7 linked regions of the Homo sapiens genome follow. The protein of the gene in region 1 purifies or fractionates together with the protein of each later gene. This does not show direct contact. Each region holds a gene or a part of one and is shown in the gene's direction. Other genes may lie near its edges. The genes, in order: SLX4, FARSB, NUP155, DSC1, FABP5, ADNP and NUP50.

Region 1 (3,969 bases):
CTCCTGTTCATTTCCTCCAAACCAAACGAGCTGCTGCCCGTTGAAAGTGCAGAGTCCCGGGGCGGCTGGTATAATGTTGACCATCGGCAGCCTAAGCTGGGAAGCCCTTCCTTCTGGCCATGGACAGAGGCACTGCCGTGGAGCCCTTGCAGGAGGGAAGGGATCCTTTTCTGCCGGTGTGGCCAGGACCGTGTAAGGAGCATCGGAAGTATTGATGGGTGAAGGTGGTGGGAGTCCAGGGAGCCTGCTCAGAGCCATCGATTGTTGACTCCATTGGATGGGCTTGGCCACATGAGGATGTGCAGGTACCACAGATGGCTCCGTACATCTGCCATGAGCCTGCTGGACAGCAGCACGTGAAGGAACCCAGACCCTCCTGTGCCTGGGCCATGTTGAACTTCTGGCCTGGAATTGAATGAGTTCACACAAGGCAGTGGAAGTGGGGGACGCATCTGCCTGGCAGGTCCACATCCGTCACTTTTCTCTCAGGCCCAGCCCTCTCCAGACCAGTGTGACCAACCTGAGAAGCGTGCACTCCTCTAGCCCCAGTAACTTTTCTCTTTGGCTGTTTTCTAGCTTCAGTGATCACAGTAGAGGTCTGAAACGGAGAGGACCCACCAGCAAGAAGGAGCCACGGAAGAGGCGGAAGGTGGACGAGGCACCGTCCGAGGACCTGCTGGTGGCCATGGCTCTGTCCCGGTCGGAGATGGAGCCGGGTGCGGCTGTACCAGCGCTCAGGCTGGAAAGTGCCTTTTCTGAGAGGATAAGACCAGAAGCAGGTTTGTGTGATCAGAAGAGTGACCCTGGGAGAGGCCATCAGCAGGTCCCGGGTGAGTGGACCGACTCCACCGTTGATGGTGTCGCTTTTGTTTCTCTCTAGAGAATAAAAGTCGCAAGAAGAAACCCCCGGTATCCCCCCCATTGTTGTTAGTCCAGGACTCTGAAACCACAGGCCGACAGATAGAGGACCGTGTGGCCCTGCTCCTCTCTGAGGAAGTGGAATTGTCTAGCACGCCACCACTTCCTGCCAGCAGGATTTTAAAGGAAGGGTGGGAAAGAGCGGGCCAGTGTCCTCCTCCACCTGAACGCAAGCAGAGCTTTCTGTGGGAGGGCAGCGCACTGACTGGGGCCTGGGCCATGGAGGACTTCTACACGGCCAGGCTGGTCCCTCCTCTCGTGCCCCAGCGGCCTGCCCAGGTGAGTCCCTCCCCTCAGGCACATGGATAGGCTTTTGGGGGAGGTTGGCAATCCCAGAACTGCAACACTGGGTACCCACAGCCAGGTGATGGAAAGTCCAGGAAGGAAAGGCAGAGGCGGGAGGAGGCCAGAGGGGCACTTGGTGGCTGCAGCTTTCTTCTCTGTCCAGCAACTACATGGTACTCTGGGTAGGATCAGGGAGGACCCTTGGTGTCCACCAGAGTGTGTTCCTGGAGTTTGTTGAAAATGCAGAGTCCCGGCCGGGCGCAGTGGCTCACGCCCGTAATCCCTGCACTTTGGGAGGCTGAGGTGGGCGGATCACGAGGTCAGGAGTTCGAGACCAGCCTGGCTAATATGGTGAAACCCCATCTCTACTAAGAATACAAAAATTAGCCAGGCATGGTGGCACACACCTGTAATCCCAGTTACTTGGGAGACTGAGGCAGAAGAATCGCTTGAACCGGGGAGGCGGAAGTTGCAGTGAGCCGAGACCGTGCCATTACACTCCAGCCTGGGCAACAAAGTGAGACTCTGTCTTGAAAAAAAAAAAAAAAACAGAGTCCCAGGGCAACTGGCAAAATGCCTCAGATGGAGCCCGGAAACTGGCATTCGGAGCACACACTCCAGACAGTCGTGCGGCAGGTAGCCCTACAGTCAGTACGCAGCTGCCTGAGGCAGCTTGGAGGACTTCAGGAGGGCGGCAGGCCTGGGCCCCCCTGGCCTCTGACAAGCCTTTGTGCAAACAGATGCCACAGGCCTGGCCTTGGCCGTGACAGAGGAGGAGCATGTTGACATGAGTGCTGGGGAAAAGCATCCCAGGACTGCTCCAGGCTGTGGCTGGAGCCCCGGGGACAGTCTGTCCCCACAGCCCACATCCTGCTCTGTAGTTTTAGGTCCAGCCGTGCATACCACATGTGATGGCTTCTGCAGTGTGTGCGTCAATGACAGTGACCACGTGGTCACTCTCCTTACTGGCTTCTTTCAGGGCCTTATGCAGGAGCCCGTGCCGCCTCTGGTGCCACCTGAGCACTCAGAGCTGAGCGAGCGAAGGTCACCCGCTCTCCACGGCACCCCCACTGCAGGCTGTGGCTCCAGGGGCCCGTCGCCTTCGGCCAGCCAGAGGGAGCACCAGGCCCTGCAGGACCTCGTGGACCTGGCGAGGGAGGGACTGAGCGCCAGCCCGTGGCCCGGCAGTGGGGGCCTGGCTGGCTCGGAAGGGACTGCAGGTGAGATGCTGGGTGGGACTCTAGGGCCAGCCCTGCCCTCCCGGGCCTCCCCTCCCCGCGGCTGAGGCTGCCATGGACTGGCTCTTGTGCCGCCGCGACGGCAGCTCTGACCTGGTGGGAGAACACGCAGCCTCTGGGCGCTTTCATTTTTTCTCAAAGGTCAATGTGGTGTAGACAACTCTGTCATGATTTTCCTTCCACTTTAACCAAAGACAGAGCTGTCTGCCCACAGCGAGTGAATCCTCTGGGTGAACTGTCTGTTTTGCTCTTCTCTTACCTCCCTGGTGGAGTGGTGGTGAGACAGGGTGTGCGGGTTTGCTTTGCATGAAGGTGTCCTCGGATAGCAAGCACCTTCCGAGGCACCGCAGGGGCTGGCTCAGCCTGTGGTCAACGCTGTCTTCTTGGTGGTGGATGTGGCTGGGCTGTGACGTTCCTTTAACCTGTGAATCCTCCACTCAGGGTTGGACGTGGTGCCCGGCGGCCTTCCTCTGACTGGGTTTGTGGTGCCATCGCAGGACAAGCACCCGGACAGGGGCGGCCGCACCTTGGTAAGAACTGGCTCTGGCCCGCGCTCTCTGGTCCCGGCCATCCCACTTGCCATGTGTGTGGTGGGGTTGGCTCACCGCTGGCCTCTGGCCCCCAACGCAAGTGCAGTGGCCTCTCAAGGCCTCTGCTTTCCAGAAGGCTGCCACATCCTGACATCCGTGAGCAGAGCCACGGACCCACAGCCACCTCAGCGCCCCTCTGGGGGCTCTGCCACGAGACTTCTGCCTTTTCTGTCTGTGACTCCATGGGGCACCTTGGGGTTGAGGCCCCAGAGCCTGCCCTGTCCTGGGTCCCAGGAGTGTAGAGGGACCACAGTTTCTCAGCGCGGTTGCCCCATCCAGGCACGCTCTGCTCGTTCCTCAGTAGTTGGGAGCTCACCAAGGGCTTGCTCTCCCTCCCCTCTGTGCGGGTCCTGGGCTCCAGAGCACAGCTGAGCAGCCTGGCCTGGCCTCCCTGTCAGTGCGCTGTCTGGGGAAGAACCGGGGTGGGAACTGGCTTTTCCCTAGAGTGGACCTCCTCCCATTTGCATGTCAGTGTCAACCAAGCACTTCATGCCAAGGCCAGCCTAGGGACATCATCACAGACTGGACCCGGCTGTCCTCTTGGCCAGGTCCCCGAGCTGCTTGGACTCAGGGTGCTTGTCCGTCACAGGGGATGGGTGCACCTCCTCAAAGCCCAGGTATCCCGCAGCCTGTCCCACTCAGTGCGGGAGCTGCCAGCACTGTGAGTTCACATCTAGCCCCATGTCTGGCATCTCCACGGGGGCCAGGGAACCCACTGGCAAGAGCCAGAGGAACAAGCTAGTGCTTTGCTCTTCTGTGCTACTCAGGGCCTTAGGGTCACTCAGAGGTTGAGGCCATCGTGGGAAGCGTTTTGGAGAGGAAAGGAGAATGCAGGTCCTGGCTCCCGGCCCACCCTAGCGCCACCTCCATGCGGGGAGCTTCCCACTGCCCAGTTAGCAGAGCAGAGGTGGGGAGGTGACGGCTCTTCCTCTCCTCCT
Region 2 (3,969 bases), on another chromosome or scaffold:
TGCTCTTCTGACTCCTTTGGAGCAGTTTTGTCTCCTTAGTCTACCTTTTCAACGGACTTTCTGTGCAGATGGTTTCCTCTTGCCACTCCTTTTCTTGTTAACTGATTTATTATCACTGCTCTTCAATTATAGTCCTGTTCTGGCGTGGTGTAATAGCTGGCAGTAGTGGCAGAACCTTCTGTGTATATCATATACACCCCTAAGGTGTGGTTACTTGATGTGTCATTTCGTTAGAGGAAATTAGTAATCACGATTTTATTGTTGATTTTTCTTTGTATAGAAACCCATGAAATAACAGCTGAAAGGAATAAAACATATGATAATTAGGATTCAGCGTATTTTAATAGTTCTGTACCACTTAGTTATCTATTACTGCATACTAAATTATCCCAAAGTTTAGCATCTTAAAGCAGCTATCATTTGTTATATAGTTTCTGAGGGTCAGGAATTGGGGACTGGCTTAGCTGGGTGGTTTTTGCTCTGGATCTGTTACCAGATTGCAGTCAAGGTGTTTGCCAGATCCGTAGTCATCTCAAGGCCTAACTGGGTCTGGAGAAACTGCTTTCAGGTTCATTCAAGTGGTTGTTGGCAAACCTCAGTTCCTTGCTGATTTTTGGCCATAGGCTTTAGTTCCTCCCACCTTATCCTCTCCATAGGACTACTTAGCACATGTTAGCTTGTTTGCCCCAGATGGAGAGGTCCGAGAGAGTAGGTAAGTAAGAGAGTGCCGAGGATAGACGCCTGTTTTCAATAACAGCTCAGAAGTGATACACTAGCCCTTCTCATATTCTCTTGATCACAGACCAATCCTAGCACAATGTGGAAGGGAACAGTACAAGGGTGTGAATACCAGGAGGCCGGTATTATTGGAGCCCATCTTGGAGGCTGACTACCACCGTTTCCCCTCTAACCTCCACTGATTCAGTTCCTCCCATATGCAAAATATACTCACCCCCTCCCAAGGCCCTCAGAAGTGTCATCCCATTACAGCAGCAGCTCAGAATCTAGAATCTCATCATCTAAATCAGGACCAGATGTGGATGTGGCTCCTTGGGTGTAGTTCCTTCAGTATAGCTTCTTTAGTACACTGTTGGCCTGAGAGACTCGAGAGACCATTTATCTGCCCCACATATACCTAACATACAGTGGTGGGATGGGCATAGGATAACTCCTGTAGCCCTTCCACTTCAAAGGGGCGGAAATGGGAGACACAAAGGAGTCATTGGTCCATGGCAATTCTGGAATCAAGTGGCAAATGTTGGATGTTCTTGATTAGGTCTGAAGGCCTGGAATAATTCTCCATGGCTGTCTGCCCTGCCCTCTAGGCTCTTGGTTTCCACCCCTCTGAGTGATCCCTAGAAAGCATGTGCTTTACAGCTGGTTGGTTTTCTCAGTCTACTTACTGCTAATAGAATTTTGAGAGTTCAAAGACTTTATTTTATCCTATTTCTATCCCTTTCAATTCTAGCTGGCAATGCTTCTGCATATGTATTTCTTCTAAAAACTTGGAAGGTCTTTGGTGCATGTTACTGGCTTCCATTTTATTAGTCAAAAGCCACACCACCTACACATCTCTGAAATATATTGAGTTTCTGCTGATAACAGTGCTCTTAATTAAGCCCTATTGTGTGATTAATTGGATTTATGAGGTGCATTCTTTATAATTTTTAATAGCACCCTTTGTTGGAATGATTAGTGCCTTTGATCTTTCTGGGTCTTAAGATTTTATGGTCATATCCTTGATTTTATCTTTGGACCATGTTTTCCTGGCAGTGCCTTGGATTTGGTCTTTGCTCAGAAGTTATTTCTTAATTTTAGCATTGTTTCACATCTGGAGAAGATGAGAATTTTTTAAATCCCCAACATCCTGGCTCATTTTTGTTTAACAGCCTTTCCTTTAGCTTATCTCTTTTTTTCACATAAGCACAAGAAAAACCCAGGTGGCACTGTGAACACTGGTTGGAAATCTTAGTTACATCACCCCATTGATTTTTTACAGTCCACATTACTGCAAGGAATGGTGTTGCTAAGCCTTCCGCCTCTTCTTAACCAGGATTCCTCTTCTTCTGCTTTCTGATAACATTACCTCACTTTCCTCCATGTCCTCACCTGCATCCTTACCAAAGACTATGAGGCTTCTTTCTTGAGGTTTTCATTTACACGCCTCAAAGCCCACTGCTTGGTTCCAAAGCCATTCCCATGTTTTTCATTTTTGTTACAGCAGTACACCACTTCCAGGGACTAAAGTCTGTATTAGTAATCTATTGCTATGTAACAAATTATTCCAAAGTATTAGTAGTCTGTTGCTACGTAACAAATTACTCTGGTACTTAGGAGTGTAAAACAAGCCTTTATTATTTTACAAAATTTCTGAGAGACAGGAATCGGGGAGTAGCTTAGGAAGGTGGTTCTGGCTTTGGGTCTCACCATGTTGCAGTCTAGCTGTCAGCTGGGGTTGCTGTCATTTCAAGGCTTGGCTGGGCTGGAGAATCTGCTTCCAGACTCACTCAGGTGATTGCTGCAGACCTCAGTTCACACAGGAGCATGAATACAAGGAGGCAGGGATCATGGAACAGGCCGTCTTGGAGGCTGGGTACCTATTACTACCTGCCCTAGTTAATGATATCCCCACCCATTTTTTCCCCCAAACCAGAGATCGGGGAGTCATCTTAGACTCCTTCTACACACTCCCTATTCCTACCTCCCATCATTCGGCCATCGAGCCTTATACATTCCACCTCTTTAACGTTTTTCATATTAATCCCTTCTTCCTCATTCTTGCTGGTGCTGCTTTAAATGAAGTCTTCACTATCGCATCTGTACTATTGCAGTAGACTCCCTGCTCCAATCCATCCTCTACTCTGCGAGCAGTCTTTAGAATGCAGATCTAATCATGTTTTTGCCCAGCCGAAGAATCCCTTCAGTATAATTCTCCATTGCCTGCCTGTAAGAAAGAGGGCAAATTGTTAGTTGACCCCTTTCTCCTTGTTCCATCATATCTTCTGATATGAACTTTATGTTTCATCCATGTTGAACTACTTAAGAGTTTCCAAATTTGCCATGCTGTTTCACGCCCCACAATCTCTGCCTAACGAACTCATCCTTTCTGTGAAGGTTTAGCTGACCATAAGAGAAACTGATTACTTCTTTTGTGCCAGCCCTGTACCTTGTACTTAACACAGTCATATTTATTTACACATCTGGCTTCTTTACTAGATGAGGAAGTAGTTAAGGCAGGAATTGTGTTTTATTTATCTTTGTAACCCTGGTACCTAGTACAGTGCCTGGTATAAGGTGGGTACTCAGTACATAGATGTTAAATTGAAATTTAGTGTCTGAATCAGGAATCTTAAGACCAGTTTTCGCTAGAATATACTGCTAATGATGTTTTGTGTTCAATTTTTGGTAATGTGAGAACCCTGAAAAGCTAAACAGTAGGATATAATATTAAAATAAGGAAGAGAACTTATTTTATTAATTGCTAATAAACTATTAATTATTGTAGACTCACTGTGTCTCAGGGTACTATGCCAGGTCCATTTTATGCATTAGCATTTAAATCTTTCCAATAGTACCATGCCATAATGGCTGTGAAATACCATTTTATAGATGAGGCAGCTGTAATGTTGACACAAGATACCAAGAAAGTTTACATAAGGTGCCAAACTCTCAGATCTAATAAGTGGGATAGAATTCAAACTCTGATTGACTTGGCTTCAAAGCCAAAAGTGTCAGGCCACCTCAGACCATTTTACCTGATAGGACTTATGTGACATTCTGTTGTGTGAGATCTGTGATTTGGAGCCTACTTTATATCTGATCTCTACTTAACAGGTGAACAGGTGTTTTTCTTCTGTGTACATGCAAACTTCCCAGTGCAGGTAACCTAAACTACAGTTGATATTAGTGTAGATTAATCAAGCCTTTAATAGTTTTTTCTTTTTTTTATCTTAAATTTTTTTGGCCCAG
Region 3 (3,969 bases), on another chromosome or scaffold:
CTTCATTTATACATTATTTTAGCAAACTTAAAGTCAGATAGTAGGATCCGTTCTTTCAAACGTATGTTGATTTATCATAAATAAATTAAGACATCCTGTTTTCTGCCCAAACTAGGTTGCTAGGATCCAACTTCAGATACAGGAGACACTACAAAGGCAGTATTCCCATCATTCTTCTGTACAGGATGCAGTTTCTCAGCTGGATTCTGAGCTGATGGACATAACTAAGGTAATAAAAAAGCAAGTGAAATTTTTATAGTAGTTACCTAATAATGAGAAATTTTTGTTTTTTATTTTGCTTTTTGTTTCATGGGGAAAATTACCTTATCTCCACAAATAAGATAAGGCATCTTTGGCAGCTTGTCACTGGGCTGACAGATCACCACTGCTTCATCTGACTCCTAGAAAAAGGCTAAGCTACTCTTTCCAGGCCAGTAGCTACAAAGAACCTATCATCCTCGCATGAGAGCTGTGTTAAAACCAGCTTATTTCCAGCCTGGGCAACATGGCAAAACCTCATCTTTACAAAAAAATAGCAAAAAAGGCCAGGCACTGTGGCTCACGCCTGTAATCCAACACTTTGGGAGGCTGAGGCGGGCAGATCACCTGAGGTCAGGAGTTTGAGACCAGCCTGGTCAACATGGGGAAACTCTGTCTCTACTAAAAATACAAAAATTAGCCAGGCGTGGTGGCATGCGCCTGTAATCCCAGCTACCTGGGAGGCTGAGGCAGGAGAATTGCTTGAACCCAGGAGGTGGGGGTTTCAGTGAGCCGAGATCATGGCACTGCAGTCTAGGAGCCTGGGCGACAGAGCAAGACTCCATCAAAAAAAAAAAAAAAAAATTAGCCAGGTGTGGTGGTGTGTGGTTGTAGTTCATCTACTCAGGAGTCTGAGGTGGGAGGATTGATTTAGCCCAGGAGGCCCAGGTTGTGGTGAGCCTCGATGGTGCTACTGCATTCCAGCCTGAGTGACAGAGTGAGACCCTGTCTCAAAAAGAAAAAAAAACTAAAAAACCAAAACCATCTTATTTATGGCCTCGCTTCTTGCCTTGGAAAAACTAACTTATCTTTGCTTAACTCTCTAAACCTCTTTCTCTCTCTGTAATTTTCTGAGCAGTTCCTTCCTCTTCATTTATTCTTAGACATAGTTCCAGGTACCCTGAAACACTTTGAGATTTGTCAGTATTCCTGTGATTCTTCAACCCATTGTTTATACAACACTAGTTCTAAAATACCATTGCAGGAGGTTTGTAGGGAAGGTGGGGATGGTTAATGGGTACAAAAACAAAATGAATAAGACCTATCTGATAGCACAATAGGGTGACTATAGTCAATAATAACTGTATATTTTAAAATAGAGAATGTAATTGGATTATTTGTAACTCAAAAGGATAACTGCTTGAGGAATAGACATTCTCCATGACATGCTTATTTCTCATTGCATGACTGTATCAGAACATCTCATGTACCCCATAAATACATACACCTACTGTGTACCCACAGAAATTTGAAAAAATGAATTTTAAAATTAATAAATAGAATGTCGTTGCAACATCTTCTTCCCAGCCAAGAAAAAAGCTCTACATGCTAAAATGTGTTTGAATGTATTTACCATACCCTTACCCTTTTTTTTTTTTTTTGGCGGGGGGAGACAGAGTCTTTCTCTGTCACCAGGCTAGAGTGCAATGGCGTGATCTCAGCTGACTGCAACCTCCACCTTCCTCAGCCTCCTGAGTAGCTGGGACTACAGCCATGCACCACCATGCCCAGCTAATTTTTTTTTTTTTTAAATTTTAGTAGAGACGGGGTTTCACCATATTGGCCAGGATGGTCTCCATCTCCCGATCTCGTGATCCGCCCACCTTGGCCTCTTAAAGTGCTGGGATTACAGGCCTGAGTCACCGTACCCGGCCCATACCCTTAACTTTTTAAATATGGAGTTATAACCAGCTACATACATCATCACATCTTTATATCATATTTCAGAAACTTTATGTAAAATCTTTGGTTATTTTTTAATTTTCAAGGAGTGCTTCACTATTAATCTCTGAATGTTGATCTCTAGTTGGATGTTAATTTTGGGATTTTCTCTCACAGCTTTATGGGGAATTTGCTGACCCATTTAAACTTGCAGAGTGCAAACTTGCAATAATTCATTGTGCCGGTTATTCAGACCCTATATTGGTGCAGACACTTTGGCAAGATATCATAGAGAAAGGTAAGTGTTCAGTTATAGGTATGTTAGCATACGTTATGTAGTGACTTGGTGGAGGAATGCAAGCTGCTAGTAACTAATATAATGCAAGCTGCTAGTGGCTCATGAAAATTGTGTATACCTAAGAAGAGAGTAAGTGGAAGTCACCTGGGTATGGTGGAGGATGATCATACACAGAATGACCCAAGTGAATATTCGGGAGAATACTCAGTGAAAAGGTTATTTAATTTATATTATTTGTGCTGCCTTATAAAAGATACTGAGACACTCACCTCAGAATCTAATAACCAGTATAACCTGGTAAGACATGAGAGTATCTCAGACAATAACAGAAACACCAAATCTGTTAATCATATTAATGTGACTATCTGTTCTAAAGTATTTTGAACCTTGAAACAGAATTAAATAACCAATGTAAACATTTCACATTAAAAGTAATTTGGGTTTCAAATGACATGTCTTTTTGTTACAGAATTGAGTGACAGTGTGACATTGAGCTCCTCGGATAGAATGCATGCTCTTAGTCTCAAGATTGTTCTCCTTGGCAAAATTTATGCTGGCACACCACGCTTCTTTCCTTTAGGTAAGCTGTGATCTTAGGTGCAGTCACGTATTTTCTGTTCTGATGGTTTTCTCCGTTGATATGGACAAATAACGATCTTTCGAGTAAAATAAAGAGTTTCTTTGCTATTTAGTTCAGCACTTTAATTCTGCCTCTCCGGAAAGACTTCCAAAGAATGGCAGAATTTGTTAATGAAGAGTTGAGTATGAAACTTTCTGTGACTAACTTTCCAAGTTTATATTACCTGTCTTAGGATTGTGCTGACTGACAAACTATGATTATATTGTTGGTAACCCTATACAAGTTTCTGAAGAGAAAAGAAAAACGGTTGATGTTTTTGTGCATAGGTAATCTGTGATTGATTCAACTGTTCTTTTTTTATGTTGAGGGCATGTTTTTCTTTAAAATAGCAAATAATTATGTTAAAACTTAGTGTTTGAATCCCTTTCTTAATGAGATATGGTGGCTATAATTTTTAAATAAGGTAGCTAATTATGAGCTATTTGCCAACCTACAAGTGTTTTCCTCAGTGGTAAAACAATAGAAGCAACATAAATACATCCATAAATTAGAATATCAACTACTTTTGTGTTATTTAAAAATATTGAGAGACATGAAAATCCTCACAATATAACTTTTTTTTTTTTTTTTGAGACAGAGGCTTTCTCTGTCGCCCAGGCTGGAGTGGAATGATGCCATCTCGGCTCACTGCAACTTCTGCCTTCCAGGTTCAAGCAGTTCTCCTGCCTAGCCTCCCAAGTAGGTGGGATTACAGGTGCCTGCAACCACGCCTGGCTAATTTTCTGTATTTTTATTAGAAATGAGGTTTCCCCATGTTGTCTAGGCTGGTCTCAAACTCCTGGCCTCAGGTGATCCGCTTGCCTTGGCCTCCCAAGGTGCTGGGATTAAAGGCGTTCGCCACTGTGCCCAGCCTAATTTTTTTTTTTTTTTTTTCAAATGAGCATTCAAACTTGTTTACAGACCATCTCTGACTTAGGGTCTATTCCCTCTGGACATAGTCAGAAATAAAACCATTTTATTCATACCCTTACTTTTGTAGGTATAATATGGAAACGGTTCCCTTTCCATACCATTTTATTGATCCTAAAAATAAAGAGAAATAAAAGAGCAAATACATACTTTATATAAATGTTTATAAGTGTGTGAAACTGGTACTTTTGATAGTTGTTTT
Region 4 (3,969 bases), on another chromosome or scaffold:
GAGTGAGGGTTTTAACAGATTTTGGTTGTGCCAGTCCTAGTGGAATAAAGTTGATCCTTAAATATTTATTAATGAATTATCTATTTTAGGGGGAGTTTATACTTTCTCAAAGTGGCATCTTTCCAAATGCCCTATACATTTCCTGGTGGTTAACTGAGTAAATAGAGAAATAGGTAGAACGGGGGAACATAATGTAGTCTGAGGTGTGTGTGTGTGTTTTATCAATAGAAATGCTTTGCTGACTAGCCATGATATTGTAATGTGTAACCCTTACATCTGCTTGTTGATGTATGTGTAAAATAATCACAGTTCCAAAAAATGATAAGCAATGCTACATTTCTTTGTTTCTTGTCAAATGTAGTCTCCTAAGAAGAGACATACCAAAGACACAGCCCTCAAGCGCAGCAAGAGACGATGGGCTCCTATTCCAGCTTCATTGATGGAGAACTCGTTGGGTCCATTTCCACAACACGTTCAGCAGGTGCATTTCACTTATTTGATTTTATATGTGTCCAAATTTTTTTTTGTTCTTAAACTTTTCATTTGAATTGCACAGCATATTGAATCAGAGGTTTAAACTAATGGTACAAATAATGATCATCTATTCACCAGAACTAGGGTCCCATAGAAGTGACCCAGTATATCTTATTACTTTCTTACAGATATCATATTTAGAAATTTAGAAACAAGTTTTATATTTGGAGTTTCTGGTGCTCTTAGGTCTATGTCTAAATTCACCCAAATACTATGCTAGACTTGTTAACACTAATGTACAGAAGGCACACCTACATGTTTTGCATAGTTCAATTCTTGCTTAAACTAACACTCATCTTTTATAAAAATGACCTGTATTTCTGCTTACCAAGTAAGATTGCCTCACTGCCACATAGCTGGATTGCAAACATAGAACAGTTTTGAAATTTTGGAGTATAGTGGCATCAGCTCAGCTCACCGCAACCTCTGCCTCCTGGGTTCAAGCGATTCTCCTGCCTCAACCTCCCGAGTTGCTGGGATTACGGACACCCACCACGAAGCCCAGCTAATTTTTGTATTTTTAGTAGAGGCAAGGTTTCGCCATGTTGACCAGTTTGGTCTTGAACTCCTGATCTCAGGTGATTCACCTGCCTAGGCCTCCCAAAGTGCTGGGATTACAGGTGTGAGCCACTGCGCCCGGCCAAAATTTTCTAATTCTTGAGGAATTAATTGTGGAAGAAAAGTTGCTTTACTTCTAGTTTTATTATCACATAATTTTCAATTCCAAAGAATTCAAAATCACGGAAACTGTTACTATTATTTATATGAAGATAAGAATAAATAGATAAAACTTGAAAAGTGTATTACTCTACATGTTTTATAGATATACAAATGACAAAAAAGTTGAGATCAAATAAGTGACAGAATTTGTGGCTTTGCACAATGCAAAATGCAAATAAAAATTCGGAAAACATGGCAGATAATGGGCACCTAAGCAGAAGAAAGAAAGAATAGGAGAGTAGGAAAGAGGGGTAGTGGTAAAAAAATAAACCATCACAAGAGGTTAGGTTGAAAATATTCATCATGACGTATTTGTTCTATTCCTAAATTATTACTGCAGATCCAATCTGATGCTGCACAGAATTACACCATCTTTTATTCCATAAGTGGGCCAGGCGTGGACAAAGAACCCTTCAATTTGTTTTACATAGAGAAAGACACTGGGGATATCTTTTGTACAAGGAGCATTGACCGTGAGAAATATGAACAGTTTGCGGTAGGATTATTGAAATATTTATTCATAATTATATCTTTATTACTGGCTTACTAATATTTTCAACTATGCTTGTTTACATATTATAAGAATCAATTATTTGATTTAATATTCAAGATATTAATATGCAATATAAACTTTAAATTTCTATTCACCATTGATGGGGAAAAACAGTGGATATAATAAGGGAAGTGGCGGGGGAGGTAAAGAAAATATAACGATGGAATTTTAAAGGATATATTTTGGTCTGTAATCCTGGAGAAATAACAAAGAGTTTTACTGAATTTAAAGTTATCCATAATAAAATGACTCAGTTATTCTCAACCATGGCTGTACATTATAAGTCATGTGAGAACTTGAAAAAAAATACTGATGCTTGGACCCATGCCCAAGTATTCTGATTTAATTGTTCTGGGATGAGATCCAGTCATCCAACGTGATTCTAAATGTGTAAGTGTTGGATCCACTGCCTTAGCCCCTTACATAGCTTTTTTTTTTTTGCATCCCTTTCTCTCACTATTCTTCAGCAATGAGATCCCTTAGTACCATTTTACTTCCTTAGTAACCCAGAACAAGTTTATCAATTCATTTGATTCTATCTTATCCTACCCAAAGACAAGACAATTCTAACTCTTCTGATAATTAAATCCTTTTGTTTCTGTTAATTTTATATAACTCTTTGGTGGACTGATGTCTCATCTGATGAAATGAGATATTCATAGTAGGTTTTTGGAATGGTGGTGAATAAAACTGATTAAGCATTTATTGTCTTGAATGATATAAGAGTATAATAAAGTTCTTTGCTAAAGGAGAATATAAAAATGAAACTTATCTCATACTTGGGCAGTTCAGAGAGTAATATCTTAGCAGACATCTGGAGAATGAGTAGTAGTTAGTGGCCACCTCAAGGCAGTTATGAAAGAAGTTAACAATTGTGGGGATGGGAAGTGGTAGACAAGTATTCCAGGAAGATGCATCAGAAATGGAAATATTTACTTGTTAAAAAGAAATCAACAACAACAACAAACCCTGGCTGAAGTGTAATTTGAAGCTAAGGAAGAGTGTGAAATATGAAGCTAGTAAGTAAAAAATAGAGAGGGAAAGACCTTATAATTTATCCTAAGGAGTAGATTCTATCGTAAGGATATCCTCCAAAGCAGTCTATAAGGTAGTGAAAAATTTGAAACTGTATAAATTTTCCACTTTAGATGTTTCATAATTAAATACAAAATTCATGGTGGGATTGTAGTGGCATATTTTCTTTATAATTTTATGTTCCCTTCCAAATTCTCTAGAATAAACATATTTTACTTCTAGTAATATAACACACTTTTACTTTAAAAAATAGTGTATCCAAGTTCTTACAGGAGAAGTAAGCTAAGCACCATTGCAATCACTTTGATCTTTCTACTCATAAACAAATAAATAATTGATAGTAAGTTCTCTGCTGCTTTTACAGTTTCTTTACTAGAGAAAAGATCTAACACTAGAAGTCACTCTTGAGGAGATATAAAAAGCTCATACTCTGTATGTTGCAATATTCACTTCATTTTCAATTTTGCTGAGGAATTGTTTGATAGGGTTCTGTTTGCCAACCTGCTTTCTATCTTTGCTTCTTACTGTGATCATTGCCAGAGGGAAAAGGAGAGAACAGTTTATAATTAAAAATAAGTTACTTTGCTATTTTTAACATTTAAAAAAATGTAAATGAATAAAATAGGTTGAAATTTATCCTCAAAGTTAAACTTTTAAATAATTTCGCCTCAGAATTACCCATGTTTCTGTAGGTCCCATTAACACAGTTAAGTTTGAATTGGCATTAAGAAACACCACTTGCAAATTAGTAAAATTCATTAAGTGAGGTATAGCAACAAGATGTAAACCTGATGCAATTATAAAATCACTTGAAGCAGGATAGAATAGAAGACTTCCCTGTCAATGCAGAGGTTAAAATAAGATAATATGTTTTTAACGTAATATACTTTAATAATAGTTTAAAATATTGAATAATGTATGTTTCTGGGAATTGGTAGATCCTAAGTATCTGTTCCTTTCCTTGTAGCCTCAAACAAATCACAACCTCCTAGAGTTCGCTTTCTTCTTTGTTTATGGGCTGCTAGTAGCTGTGTTCCCAACCTCAGTAGTGTTCTGATCATTAAATGCCGTAATACCAGTGATACCACTATGTAAACTGTAAAAGTTGTTGAAGATATTCTAATGGT
Region 5 (4,528 bases), on another chromosome or scaffold:
AACTGAGGGCAGGGACTTGAAATGAAAGGGATGCAGTTCAGGGGAGTACATGTCCTGCAGCATGTTGGGAGATAGCAAACCAACCTCAGATTTCAATTTTGTCAAGGATGATACAAGAACTAGTAGTGTCTCGGTGACTGTGGTCTACTCAGAGCTCCATCACAGCTACCCTGAGCCCAAGGCAGTCAGGTGTGGTCTGATTTCATAAGGTCTTCAGTGAGACGGACCTGGATGGGGATTCTGGTTCTACCACTGTGAGAACTATCTTTGCCCTATTTTCTCTTTTGAAAAATTGGGATAACACCCCTAGCAAAAATATAGTGGAGACCAATGTCTATAAAGTGCCCAGGAAGCACATCTAGCACTTAGTAGCTACTCAATAAATGCACATTACCGCTATCGAAACGGCCAGCCTGTGTGGCAACTTCCTCACCTCAGTCCATCTGACTTCCAACAGGCACCCGGGAGCACCAAGTAATAAATTGTGAAGAGTACACTTTGAAACGTATCATGTTCTACGCACATGTGTAGGGTATTATTATAGTTCAAGAGAAAGAGGGAACCCGCTGGTGTCTGAGAAGAAACCCGCTGGTGTCTGAGAAGAAACGGTGAAGGGTGCACTACGAAGGGAATATAAACTAATCAAACATTCTTGAATGGCAATGACAGTCACTAAAGTTGACACTTCCTGCAGTCTTTTAGTTTAGAAACCACACTTCCCGAGACGTCCCCCATCCCAACAGGGATAAAATCCTCTAGCTCAACTCAGGTATATCCCCACTATTGGGCCAGGGAGACCTGCGGATGGCGAGAGCAGGTTCTCTTAGGAGGGTGTGGATTGTGAGCTTGTGCGCTGGCGAGGAGCAGAAGGTCAGGGAGGCACCGTAGTTAATGAATCAATAAACCAAACAGCCGATCAATCACTTCCTGCAGTCCGAGTCCGGCGAGGGCTAATCGATTGGTCCGGGTATTTTGAAAGGAAAAACGGCGGTGGATATGTTGTCAAACGGAGGGGTGCAGGAGAGGCGGGGCCAGGCCTCCAGGTGACCCCTCTGGCTTCCTGGGCCTGCAGAGGCGCCGAAACGTGCAGGCGCCGGCGTCCATGAGGCGTGGGGCGCGCCGGGCGAGTCCCTGCTTGCAGGAGGCGCCCGAGAGGCCGTCGCGTACCCTGGCAAGAGGAGCTGGTTAGCACCTCCCGACCCCGAGAAGGCCCAGGGGGCGCCCGGCGGGCGGGGCGGGGACCGGGCGAGGCCCGCCTCCCATTGGCCGCATAGCGCCGCCCAGCGCGGGCCGCCGTTATAAAGCAGCCGCCGGCGCCGGGTGCCTCACAGCACGCTGCCACGCCGACGCAGACCCCTCTCTGCACGCCAGCCCGCCCGCACCCACCATGGCCACAGTTCAGCAGCTGGAAGGAAGATGGCGCCTGGTGGACAGCAAAGGCTTTGATGAATACATGAAGGAGCTAGGTGAGGCACCCGGCCTGGCAGCGCCTGCAACGTGGCGTGTTGTGCGGTCGTCTGTCCCTAGGTCCCCGTCAGCGTGCCAGATTCTGGGGCAGGAGATGCTCGGCGGCCTACCCCCATCCCCTCCCATCTTCCCCACCACGCGGCCGTTGGGTGCAGCGCGCGCAGCACCACGCGGGCAGGCGGCGAGGAGCAGGGAGCGTGCGCGCCTCTTGCCCGCCCGCGGGCCGCAAGATTCCGGAGGTGGTCCACCCCGTGGTCCACCTACCTCTGCTTCTTTCCCTTCGCCCAAACGGCAGCCCTTCCGCATTGCTTCCTGTCCTTTAGCGCGCGCACCCGTCACCTCACGCTGCACTTCTTTCGACCCCCTCCAGGCGACCCTGTATTTCCCTTTTTTCCCCCTTTACTCATCCTTCCCCTTCCTGCCACCATTCTGTCTCTCCCATTTACCCCATCGTGGCAGCACCCACTCCCCTTTCCCTCCCTGTCGCATCTTTTGTTCCCTGTGGCGCGCAGGTCACCCTCCGTTTTCTTCATGGGGACGCGGTGCTGGCGCGCAGTTTCCCGCAGAAATCCTGTGGAGGGGTCTGAGTGGCGCTACAGCTTCAGCTTGCATTCCTCTGTCAGCCCCGTCTCCCCCAGGTCCTCTGCTCGCCCTTACCAGTTGAGCCGAACCCTTTGGATTGGTACCCCATGGAACACCAGGGCCCCCGAGAAGCGTGGCGCTGGCGGTGCCGACCTGCTGCTGGCACTGCCGGGCCGGGGCGCCGCAGTGGGCGGGTGGCCTGTGGGAGGAGCGCAATGAGGCCTGGGGGTGGCCGTGTGTTGCCATCCTGGCCTCTGCCACTTGAGGGTGAGGAGGAAGGAGGCAGTGGGCTTTGCTGGAAAACCGTAACAGAAACTGCCTGGCCCTCCTGCGGCTAACTGCATGCAAGATGGGTGTGGCCCTGCAGAAGGCAGATGACTTCTTGAAGCGTTCCGAGGGAGAATGAATCTCAGTAGTAAGATTCATTTCTCACTCAAAACAGTGCTTCATTATAAATTACTGTCCTTTTCTATGCCAGTGACAGATTGCATGCTGATTGAGACACTGGATAAATTGCAAACAAAAATGGACCTTTGTCACAGGCCACTAGGAAGTGAGATGGAGTTAGCATAGCATGGATCCTCTCTGGAAGGGAGCTTCCAGCCCTAAGGGATGGCTGGGATTTATGAGGGTGCTTCAGAAGCCGGTATCCACAAATGTTAACCCGGTTGCTCGCTGGTGAAATAACTACCGTGACCCTCTATTGATACCTGGTCGCCGTGGCACTTCGGAATCACTCCTTCAGTACCCTTTATCCAAGACCATGTGGTGTTAAGGCTGGTTTATGGTGAATCATGAGTGTATTTTTGATACTATCAGTAAAGAAGGCAGTATTTTTCTTTTTCCTTGTAAACCTACATCAAGATGACTCTGGAAAAAGCGATTTACTGCACCTGTCCAATAAATAACAGTGTGTGTGTGTGTGTGTGTGTGTGTGTGTGTACAAGTTTAAGGCCCAAAGAACACTTTTCTCTGCCTGTAGAAAGCAAATTGTGTGTAGGTTTGGAGGGCTTGTTTCCAGGATTCTGGAGTCTTGAAGGTTGTCAAGACTCAGTTCATTAGGGAGCAGTCACAATGTGAAAAGAGCAGAGCCCATTTATTTGTCCAAAGTGAGAGTACATAATGACTCAATTAACAGCATAAGGCACCAGCCCTGAGCTGGCAAAAGAGAAGGCTCCAAGGGGAACTTTAAAGCCTGGCTGGGTGTTCTTCATCAAGACAATCATGCTGCGTAGGTTGTAGTCTCCTCATTTATGAAACAGTGATTTGGCCTGGATCTAAGATTCCTTATACATGTTAACTAACTCTAAGGGGAAAGAGATAGATCATAAATTACATGTTAACGTTGAGGGGAAATTGATAGATCATAAATTAAAATATAATTTAATATGTTATATATTTCTATTGATTTATATACCTATGAAATAGTTTTTATATTGAAAGGTAGGATTTTTTTTCCCATTTGTTAGCATCATGATTGTGCTGCTGAGTTTTAAAAGATTGTGCTATTTGAATATCTCAGGATCAATTTCTATTTTGTGTAGTCTATTAATCAAATATTTATCGAGAACATTTATATGCCAGACTGTGCTGGAGTCATAGAATGTAATGGTTGGCAGAATCTAGTAAAAAGAAAAAGATTGAGCAAACTCCTGAATTTGCAATTTTGAATGCTTTATCTCCACCTTCTATCAACTGCTTTGAGTAAATAAAATTTGGAAGTCCACATTTCTTCCCTAACTTTCTGAAAGCCAGCATAGCATGGTGGCCAGAGCTCAGATTTGGAGCCAGGGTGCCAGTGCTCTTGGTTCCCAGCTCCATCACTTTCTAGTTGAATGATCTTGGGCAAGTTACTTCCGTGCCTCGCTTTCTCATCAGTAAAATGGAGACAGTAACATCTGCCTTTTACAGGGCTGTTGTAAGGCTTACCTGAATTTCATATATGTAAAGTGCTGGCTCATACCGTGGGATATATGTTTACAATAGTTATCAATAAGCAAATAAGTGAAAATATGCCGCACAAAGTGATTACAATGGAATTATTGCTTTTATCATGTAAATGATAACTTTGGTCTTCCTGTTATTTAACATGACTTAACATTCTACAGGAGTGGGAATAGCTTTGCGAAAAATGGGCGCAATGGCCAAGCCAGATTGTATCATCACTTGTGATGGTAAAAACCTCACCATAAAAACTGAGAGCACTTTGAAAACAACACAGTTTTCTTGTACCCTGGGAGAGAAGTTTGAAGAAACCACAGCTGATGGCAGAAAAACTCAGGTCAGTCGTGACATGTTATGAAATCACAGAAGCTTCTAGAATGATAGGCTGTATCAATAACATTTTACTGTTTATAGGCAAGAACTTAATGAAAAAGTTATTTTATGAATTGAATTTTGTCAAATTAGCAAAAGTATCAACTTCATCATAGAATTGGCATCTTTTATTAGCTACTAGGTTGAAAACCACAAACTATTG
Region 6 (3,969 bases), on another chromosome or scaffold:
CAATGAACCATGAGTGCACTGCACTCCAGCCTGCGCGACAGAGTAAGACTCTGTCTTAAGAAAAGGAAGGAAGGATGGATGGATGGATATATCAAGCCATATGCACATGAAAGCAGGTGTGTGTCTGTGTGTGTACACACTAGATGAGGATATCTATGCACCTTTTTTGTCAGATGGGTAGGTTTTATGATCCTATCATCAGTGGAATTAGTAAATATTACAAGTTGTACGTGTTTTGACTTTGACTTAAATTTTTTTTTCCAATAGAAACTATGTTCCAACTTCCTGTCAACAATCTTGGCAGTTTAAGAAAAGCCCGGAAAACTGTGAAAAAAATACTTAGTGACATTGGGTTGGAATACTGTAAAGAACATATAGAAGTAAGTAGCATGTCATTTTTAAATTTTAACATGACTCAGCTTCTGATCCATTACTTTGTGTCAGTGGCCAAGATGGCTAAATCTTAGATGTGATTCTGAATTTCAGCCACAGCAGTAGCTTCACGAAAACATTCTCAATAGCATTAACTTGTGCCTTTCTCCCTAAAATGGGCTTTTTCATTTTTGCATCCTGAAGCAGAAGGCTACCATTGAGGACTTAAGCATGTCAGGCGTTGAACTAGGTGCCGTAAAGTTGTCTATACATTTAATCCTTAGAACAACCATGGAGGCGGGAGGCAGTGTAGCAGTTCTTATCTCCACTTCACAGATGAAGAACAAATAAATAGGCCCAGCCTTGCAGCTGAGAAAGTGGCAGTGTCTGTGGGACTCAAAGCCTGTTCTCATTCTGATACGCCTGAATGTTCTGGTTGACCTTCTTCTAATTGTTGAGGCGTGCTTGTGTGGGTGCTTGTTGTCTCTTTCCTTAGGATTTGAGCATTTGTTGCCCCTTTTGACCCATCATAGACTATTACTTTCCCCCTTGTATAACAGTTTGGGCTTTATGAACTGTTTTTCAAGCTGTTTTATTCTATGAGCTTTATAACAGCTCTGTGGGATAGCCATGCAGTGGTCTCCTTTTCAACATCTCACTGTTCCAGGTCTTATGGTTTGTTGGTCAGAGCCCCTGATTGAAAAGAAATGTTTGAAGCTGTTTCCCCCACTAACCTTTAAGTTCTAGGTGGCTAGGGAACATAGCTACCTTGTTTATCCATTTAGCCCCAGCACCTAGCACAGTGTTTTGCACGTAATAGGTGATCAGTAAGTGTTTGAATGGAATTGGAAGTAAAAAAGCAAATTCATTCATACAACAGGTTTTCTTAATTTGAGTTCCACTAATAATACTTGAAGAGTATGGCATGGAAACAGAAGCTGCTCAAAAGTTGACTTCTCTAGTCACGTTGTTCCAAGTGTGGAAGTAGCCCTTCTCCAACCCCAGAGTTCAGGTAGATCTGCCCAAATGAAACAGTCCATTCACTTTGCACTCTGTGGGGTCATCTTCATAGAAATAATTAATACCAACATCACAGTACATTTCTGTCATGCATTTGATTTGTTCCTCCTATGATTATTTATGTGTAGACTTCATTTTCCACCTTGAACTGTGAACTTTTTAGGAACAAGTGGGATTTTACCCTAAGACTTTTAATCTTCCTAGTCTGGAGGGAAGTGGACCATTAAATTTTTACATGAGAGTATAAATTTAACATCATACTGCTTAACTTTCTTTGAATAGCTTTCTTTCTGCCTTTTTGGGTTTGAAATTTGAGTTTTCTTCCTGATCTGATCTCCTGCCCCCTCCCCTCGAAAAAAATCTTTTTTTTGCACAGAACCAGAAATCATATTTGCAGTGCTGTAAGCAAACATTGCTATTTTAGACACCATTCCAGTACTGTAACTGACGAGTTAGAGTACAGTACTCTAATGAAAAGTGCTTTGATATTAGTGTGTGGCTGAATTTTTTACTTAATTAGAACTTCCAGCAATTTCCTTGGAAACCTGACTGACCATCAGGAAAGTGGTTGGTTGATATAAAATGTAGACTGCAACTTCCATATGCCTTTTTATATTTAAGAGCCTTATCACTCCTAGTTTAAGTCCTTGTTGACGTTGGTTTTCCTGTGCCTCTCCCCATCTTAGTTAAGAGGTGAGATTTACATGTAAGATTGGGTTAGCGTTTATACCACTATGTTTTTGTAAACTTATTTCACTGTTTTCTAGGATTTTAAACAATTTGAACCTAATGACTTTTATTTGAAAAACACTACATGGGAGGATGTAGGACTGTGGGACCCATCACTTACGAAAAACCAGGTAAGTGGCACAGGAGACTTCCTCAGATGGCAGCATGCTTGGTATACTCCCTTTTCAGCTCTAGGCCTTTTATAGCGGTGCAGTGATTGCGGGCAAGTGCCAAACATCGAAAGTGTCAAAATTGCATTTCATATTTTCCTGACCAGTGGGAAGACTAAGAAAAACTTTTTGTCCTTTTTTGTCATTGGACTAAAACTTGAGGTGTAAGAAGAAACAAAATTTTGTTACTTAAAAGTTACGAAGCCTGCTGTATCCCACCATTTCCCCTAAAAGTGCTCTGGCTCTATTTTTCTGCATCTGTGTTGCCATTCTTGTTTTTTCTGCACAGAAAAAGACAAGACCCTTCCTTACATTTAAGCTTTTCTTATTTCCCTATGTTGATGGCACCCAACTTCTATGGGAGGCCTGGGGAAGTGACTCTGTAGGATGTCAGTGACAGAGAGATAAAACTTCTTACAAATTGGCATTAAAAACAATATTAGCACTGCCAGCAAGTATCAATAGATGATGATGATGTCATATAGGTGATATTTCCTTCTGCATAGAGAGAGGTAATTGTCAATTTAATTTTTACCATTACCTATTTTAGGAGTGATTCTCATTCTGCATTAATGATCTGTTCATCTATCGGAACATACTTTTCAGGAAATTAGTACTCAGATATTTGACTTTTTTTTTTTTTTTTTTTTTTTTTTAAATACCCCAGGCAAAGTTACTAACCAGCAGTCTTAGAATGAGAATGCTTTCCAGTGGGACACATCATTTATTTAATTCAGTTTTATCAATCTGAAAGCCTCATAGCTGAATACTAAAGAAGAGTTGAGCTTTGAGGAGAAGCAGAGTATTTCATCATGGTTCAAACCAGTATCTGAAACAAGTAGGTTTCTAGGGAGAAAAGATAATCTCTTACCAAGCATGTCAGTTCACCTGCCTTCATCAAAGGACTGACTGCATAGGTGTTAACAATCATAATTCTGAAAGTTGCTCTTTGATATCAGTATATTCTATAATGTATTATTGGCTTTTAAATACCTCACCCTCCTCACAGTCTGTAGGACATTTTTATTTAACTTCTTGATTTGAATCAAAGCAGCTATTACTTCATTAGCTCTTTTGAAGTGTTCTTGGTTGAGAAGGAACAGCAAGGCTTATAGAAGAAAGCCAACTTTTCAAATCAGTCTTTCTTTTGATCAGCGCTGAATCTGATACTACACTGTACTTTAATCAGAGGAAAAAATGGAGATTTGCCTTTTTTCTATGAAAATTTATCCATAATGAGGAAAGGAATAAAAGATATAGCTTTATCTCTTGTAATTGTCTAATTGCACTAAAACATCGTGGGCCCTGAATTTTACCGCAGTCATTCACCACATAACGACATTTTGGTCAGTGATGAACTACATCTACGACAGTGGTCCCATAAGAATATAATTGAGCTGAAAAACTTGCTACCTTATGACATCATAGCGCAACATATGATTCATGTTTGTAGTGATACTAATGTAAACACACCTGTGCTGCCAGTCATAGAAGTATAGCACATACAGTTATTTACAGCGTATAATACCGTCGTGCATTGCTTAATGATGGGATGCATTCTGAGAAATGCCCTGTTAGGTGATGTCATTGTTGTACAAACATCATAAAGGGTACTTACACAGACCTAGGTGGTATAGCCTCCTATTACCCCTACGCTATATGGTATGGCCTGTTGCTC
Region 7 (3,969 bases), on another chromosome or scaffold:
CCTGGTTTCTGCACAGTAAAGAATTATGTCTATTCCTGTATTTGTTTTTGTTTGTATGACAAAGATTAATGGCAAAACTTAACCAAGTGTTTTTGGGTGGACATTAAAAAGAGAGGGTTCCCAGCGAATGGAAAGTGTATTTATTTCTCATCCTTTATATTTTAGAATCTTGGACTTTAATATCATTTGTAATCAGAAAAATAGCATAAACTTACAAAATTTAAAAATCACTAAAATGTATTAAAAGCTGACAGCCCGTATGTAATTACTCCACTGGCCATCAAATTGTAGAGGCCTTTGGAATACCAGCATTTGCATTTTACTTTTAGATACTAAAGAGTGATATGTCACCTCATATCTTAGCGACCACTTTGTGGGGTTGTAATACACTCTGTATTACACAATACACCAGAATAAGGAAGCTTACTCTGGTGTATTGTGGTGTTGAGAGCAAACAAGAGTGGGGAGAGTATCACGAAGGAGTTCAGGCAGGTTTAACAAGACCTGGCAGGTCCCCAAAACTAATCAGTAAGTTTTTGGGCGAGGTGGGTAGCAGGGGAAATGGAAAGGTTTTTTGTCCAGCTGGAGAGTTAGTGAAGAAGGCAGCACAACACTCATAGCGGAGCTCTGGGTTGTGGGTTTTCTTTGTTTTGTTGTTATGATATTAAGATCAGAAAACAAATCGTAAATTTTAAGGGATGGACAGGAGCACCCTCTTTGGTTAGGTGCCGGAATCCACTGCAGAGTTCACGCCGTTCCCCAACTCCTGCCCCTTCCACTAATGCCATCGTATTGAAGAGTTAAGCCAATGATTTGTTTTTGAAAGGTTATAAGTTCCCAGAATACTAACACACCCATGTTAATCATTTTGGACTTCTAATTGTCTTGGCAATATACAATTTGAAGCAACAAAATGTTCAGTCTTGGGAACCATGTATCTCTGTCGGCTGTAGCTTAAAGAACAGTATTCGTGTTGTGGAGGCGTTTCCAGCCCGTTATTCGTATTCTTACTGAAAGATACACTTCTTTAATGGGTCATCTTTAAGAGAATTTTAAATATTAAAATTATTTTCTTTATGACAAGACTTTCAGTATGTATATGCGTAGAATAAGTTAAGGACTTTTTGATTATATATACAGTACTTCAGATTCCAGATTTTTAAAAAATCAATTGATATTTCATTTTAATTTTTCCAAATGGAGTCGGTTTAGTGTTGTTCAGGACTGCTGGTGTTCCCTAGGAATCTTCTTCTGCCTCCTGGAAAAAGCCTTTATTGATTTGTAACACTGGGAGCCTAACAGCACCAATGTAAAGTTCTCATTAAAGCAGTTTCCAGATGCTTTTTTTCCCTGATAAAAAAACCAGAGATGTTTTTATCTCACTTCATGCTAGAGTGAATTTTTAAAATTCTTTATAAGAATTTATTCTTCTAGAAAAATAAACTCTTCTGTTTTCTATAACTTAGGTTCGAAAACATGGCCAAAAGAAATGCCGAGAAGGAACTGACAGATAGGAATTGGGATCAAGAAGATGAAGCTGAAGAGGTAAAAAGCAGCTTCCCTAAGAATGATTTCCTGTTTCTTTTGCCTTTTACATTCATTTTGGGGTTCCTCATGAAGACTTGTGACAGAACTAAAAGACCTTTCTAAGAACATCATGAATGGGAGATGACAAGAAATTATATGACCTGTACTTAGTGTAGATATTTATTAATTACATTTCTGTGACCTCTAGTTAGTGTAGAAATGTATTAATTACATTTAGATGTGCTTTTCCACTAGTGCCTGCTCCTTAAATATTCTCCTTAGTAGAAGCACTTTTCCTCCTGAGTTTCGTATACTTGAAGCATTCTGAACCCATGTTTGCAGTAAGCCATTTTAGTCATGACTGAAGGCTGAGTTAAGTGATGTAGTCATGAACTTAGCACACTGCCCAGATGTGAAAGTGGTACACCATCACCATCTTGGTCTGTGGTACTCCGTTTCCCTAATGCTTCTTGGAGGCCTGCTTTATTTCCTTTTCTTAATGGTAGACCTGAGACCCCTAACAATTGCATTTATAGGAATAGAATTGAGATTGGCCTAGTTCCTTTTCCAGCAGAATAAAAATGGTCTCCCCTGAGGAAATCTGATCATTTTTCCCTTATAAACAGTAGGACTGGGCAGCATAGAGAGATCCCGGTCTCTATAAAAAAAATTTTTTTTTTTTTTTTTTTTTGAGACAGAGTCTCACCCTGTTGCCCAGGCTGGAGTGCGGTGGCACAACCTCGGCTCACTGCAACTTTTATCTCCCGGGTTCAAGTGATTCTCCTGCCTCAGCCTCCCGAGTAGCTGGGATTACAGGTGTACACCACCACACCCAGCTAATTTTTGTATTTTTAGTAGAGACAGGGATTCACCATGTTGGTCAGACTGGTCTCAAACTCCTGACCTCAAGTGATCCACCCGCCTTGGCCTCCCAAAGTGCTGGGATTACAGGCGAGAACCACCGCACCCAACCCCCCAAAAAATTGTTTTAATTAGCTGAACATGGTGGCATGAGCCTATAGTCACAGCAATTTGGGAAGCTGAGGCGGGAGGTTTGCTTGAGCCCAGGAGTTCAAGGCTGCTGTGACCTGTGATTGCACCACTGCACTCCAGCCTGGGCAACAGGGTGAGACCCTGTCTAAAAAACAAAGAATAAAACACAGCTGTACTTATAGGATGTGGGCGAAGGATTACCCAGGTGCCGAGGCAAGAGACTGAAGGCACAAACTGTTTCAGTATAATACATAAAATAGTTAGAATAAGAATAGTCATAATACAAATTAGATACAGAGATGATCACGGGCATTATCAATCATTAGTATAAACATTACTAGTCATTAGCTTTTAATATTACTCTTTGTTGTACTACTAATATAACCAAGGAATAACCGGCAGATACAGGGTCAGGTGCTGAAGGGACATTGTGAGAAGTGACCTAGAAGGCAAGAGGTGAGCCAGCCCTCTGTCACGCCCGCATAAGGGCCGCTTGAGGGCTCCTTGGTCAAGTGGTAACGCCAGTGCCTGGGAAGGCACCTGTTACTTAGTAGACCGTGAAAGGGAGTCTCCTTTACTTGGAGGAGTCAGGGAACACTCTGCTCCACCACCTTCTTGTGGGAGATTGGATATTGTCCAGGCTTGCCAGTAGTCATCCAGAGGCTTGAACCCCTCCCTGTGGTGCTGTGCTTCAGTGGTCACACTCCTTGTCCACATTCATGCTCCTCCCGTAGTCCTGGTTCCTCTTTGAAGTTCTTAGTAGATAGCAGTAGAAGAAATAGTGAAAGTTTTAAAGTCTTTGATCTTTCTGATAAGTGCATAGAAGAAAATGCTGACGTACGCCGCCTTCCTTCTCTGCTTCAGCTACCTAAAAGGGAAGGGCCCCTGTCCCATGATCACGTGACTTGCTTGACCTTGTCAATCCCCTGGACGACTCATCCTCCTCACCCTGCTCCCTTGTCTTGTATGCAATAAATATCAGCACGCCCAGCCATTCAGGGCCACTGCCGGTCTCCGTGTCTTGGTGGTAGTAGTCCCCCAGGCCCAGCTGTTTTCTCTTTATCTCTTTGTCTTGTGTCTTTATTTCTTACAATCTCTGTTTCCCCCTTCGAGGAGAACACCCGCAAAGCCCAGTAGGGCTGGACTCTACAGTCGTACCTTATCAGCAGTGTGTTACCCCCAGGCCAGATGACTAAGGAAATCTGTAACCACGACTTTCAGGTTAACAGCATAGTGCTAAGTGAAAAAAGAAAAATGTTAAAACTGCAACTGTTTCCAAGCTTATTCTTAGACGGCCATCTTCCTTCTTTTGGAATCTTTCTGGTACTAGTACTTTTTTTCTCTACAAGTGTATCTCCTCACATATGTTTAGGGAAACCAGAATCCCAAGGATGTGAGTGTTTTGACAGGGTCAAAACTGATTTGGTGCTTTTTAACTAAAATCTTTGG

The links.
Region 2: the proteins of SLX4 (region 1) and FARSB purify together in Homo sapiens (affinity purification with mass spectrometry; 2 studies listed by BioGRID and IntAct, with this or other methods). This does not show direct contact.
Region 3: the proteins of SLX4 (region 1) and NUP155 purify together in Homo sapiens (affinity purification with mass spectrometry; 2 studies listed by BioGRID and IntAct, with this or other methods). This does not show direct contact.
Region 4: the proteins of SLX4 (region 1) and DSC1 purify together in Homo sapiens (affinity purification with mass spectrometry; 2 studies listed by BioGRID and IntAct, with this or other methods). This does not show direct contact.
Region 5: the proteins of SLX4 (region 1) and FABP5 purify together in Homo sapiens (affinity purification with mass spectrometry; 2 studies listed by BioGRID and IntAct, with this or other methods). This does not show direct contact.
Region 6: the proteins of SLX4 (region 1) and ADNP purify together in Homo sapiens (affinity purification with mass spectrometry, with the first as the bait; 2 studies listed by BioGRID). This does not show direct contact.
Region 7: the proteins of SLX4 (region 1) and NUP50 purify together in Homo sapiens (affinity purification with mass spectrometry; 2 studies listed by BioGRID and IntAct, with this or other methods). This does not show direct contact.

The regions. Positions count from the first base shown.
Region 1 is NC_000016.10:3,594,607-3,598,575, reverse strand, and holds part of SLX4 (structure-specific endonuclease subunit SLX4), read left to right. Parts: exon of another isoform or gene 1-415; coding exon of another isoform or gene 416-576; coding exon 577-779; intron 780-880; coding exon 881-1,197; intron 1,198-2,182; coding exon 2,183-2,423; intron 2,424-2,882; coding exon 2,883-2,971; intron 2,972-3,969. UniProt on the Homo sapiens protein: Regulatory subunit that interacts with and increases the activity of different structure-specific endonucleases.
Region 2 is NC_000002.12:222,649,261-222,653,229, reverse strand, and holds part of FARSB (phenylalanine--tRNA ligase beta subunit), read left to right. Parts: intron 1-2,330; exon of another isoform or gene 2,331-2,944; intron 2,945-3,969.
Region 3 is NC_000005.10:37,297,697-37,301,665, reverse strand, and holds part of NUP155 (nuclear pore complex protein Nup155), read left to right. Parts: intron 1-115; coding exon 116-229; intron 230-2,097; coding exon 2,098-2,218; intron 2,219-2,687; coding exon 2,688-2,798; intron 2,799-3,969.
Region 4 is NC_000018.10:31,152,555-31,156,523, reverse strand, and holds part of DSC1 (desmocollin-1 isoform Dsc1a preproprotein), read left to right. Parts: intron 1-361; coding exon 362-481; intron 482-1,594; coding exon 1,595-1,750; intron 1,751-3,969. UniProt on the Homo sapiens protein: A component of desmosome cell-cell junctions which are required for positive regulation of cellular adhesion.
Region 5 is NC_000008.11:81,279,209-81,283,736, forward strand, and holds the start of FABP5 (fatty acid-binding protein 5), read left to right. Parts: upstream 1-1,327; 5' UTR 1,328-1,387; coding exon 1,388-1,466; intron 1,467-1,731; exon of another isoform or gene 1,732-1,836; intron 1,837-2,124; exon of another isoform or gene 2,125-2,216; intron 2,217-4,157; coding exon 4,158-4,330; intron 4,331-4,528. UniProt on the Homo sapiens protein: Intracellular carrier for long-chain fatty acids and related active lipids, such as endocannabinoids, that regulate the metabolism and actions of the ligands they bind.
Region 6 is NC_000020.11:50,900,300-50,904,268, reverse strand, and holds part of ADNP (activity-dependent neuroprotector homeobox protein), read left to right. Parts: intron 1-267; coding exon of another isoform or gene 268-272; coding exon 273-380; intron 381-2,159; coding exon 2,160-2,252; intron 2,253-3,969.
Region 7 is NC_000022.11:45,166,702-45,170,670, forward strand, and holds part of NUP50 (nuclear pore complex protein Nup50), read left to right. Parts: intron 1-1,464; exon of another isoform or gene 1,465-1,466; 5' UTR 1,467-1,476; coding exon 1,477-1,545; intron 1,546-3,969. UniProt on the Homo sapiens protein: Component of the nuclear pore complex that has a direct role in nuclear protein import. Actively displaces NLSs from importin-alpha, and facilitates disassembly of the importin-alpha:beta-cargo complex and importin recycling.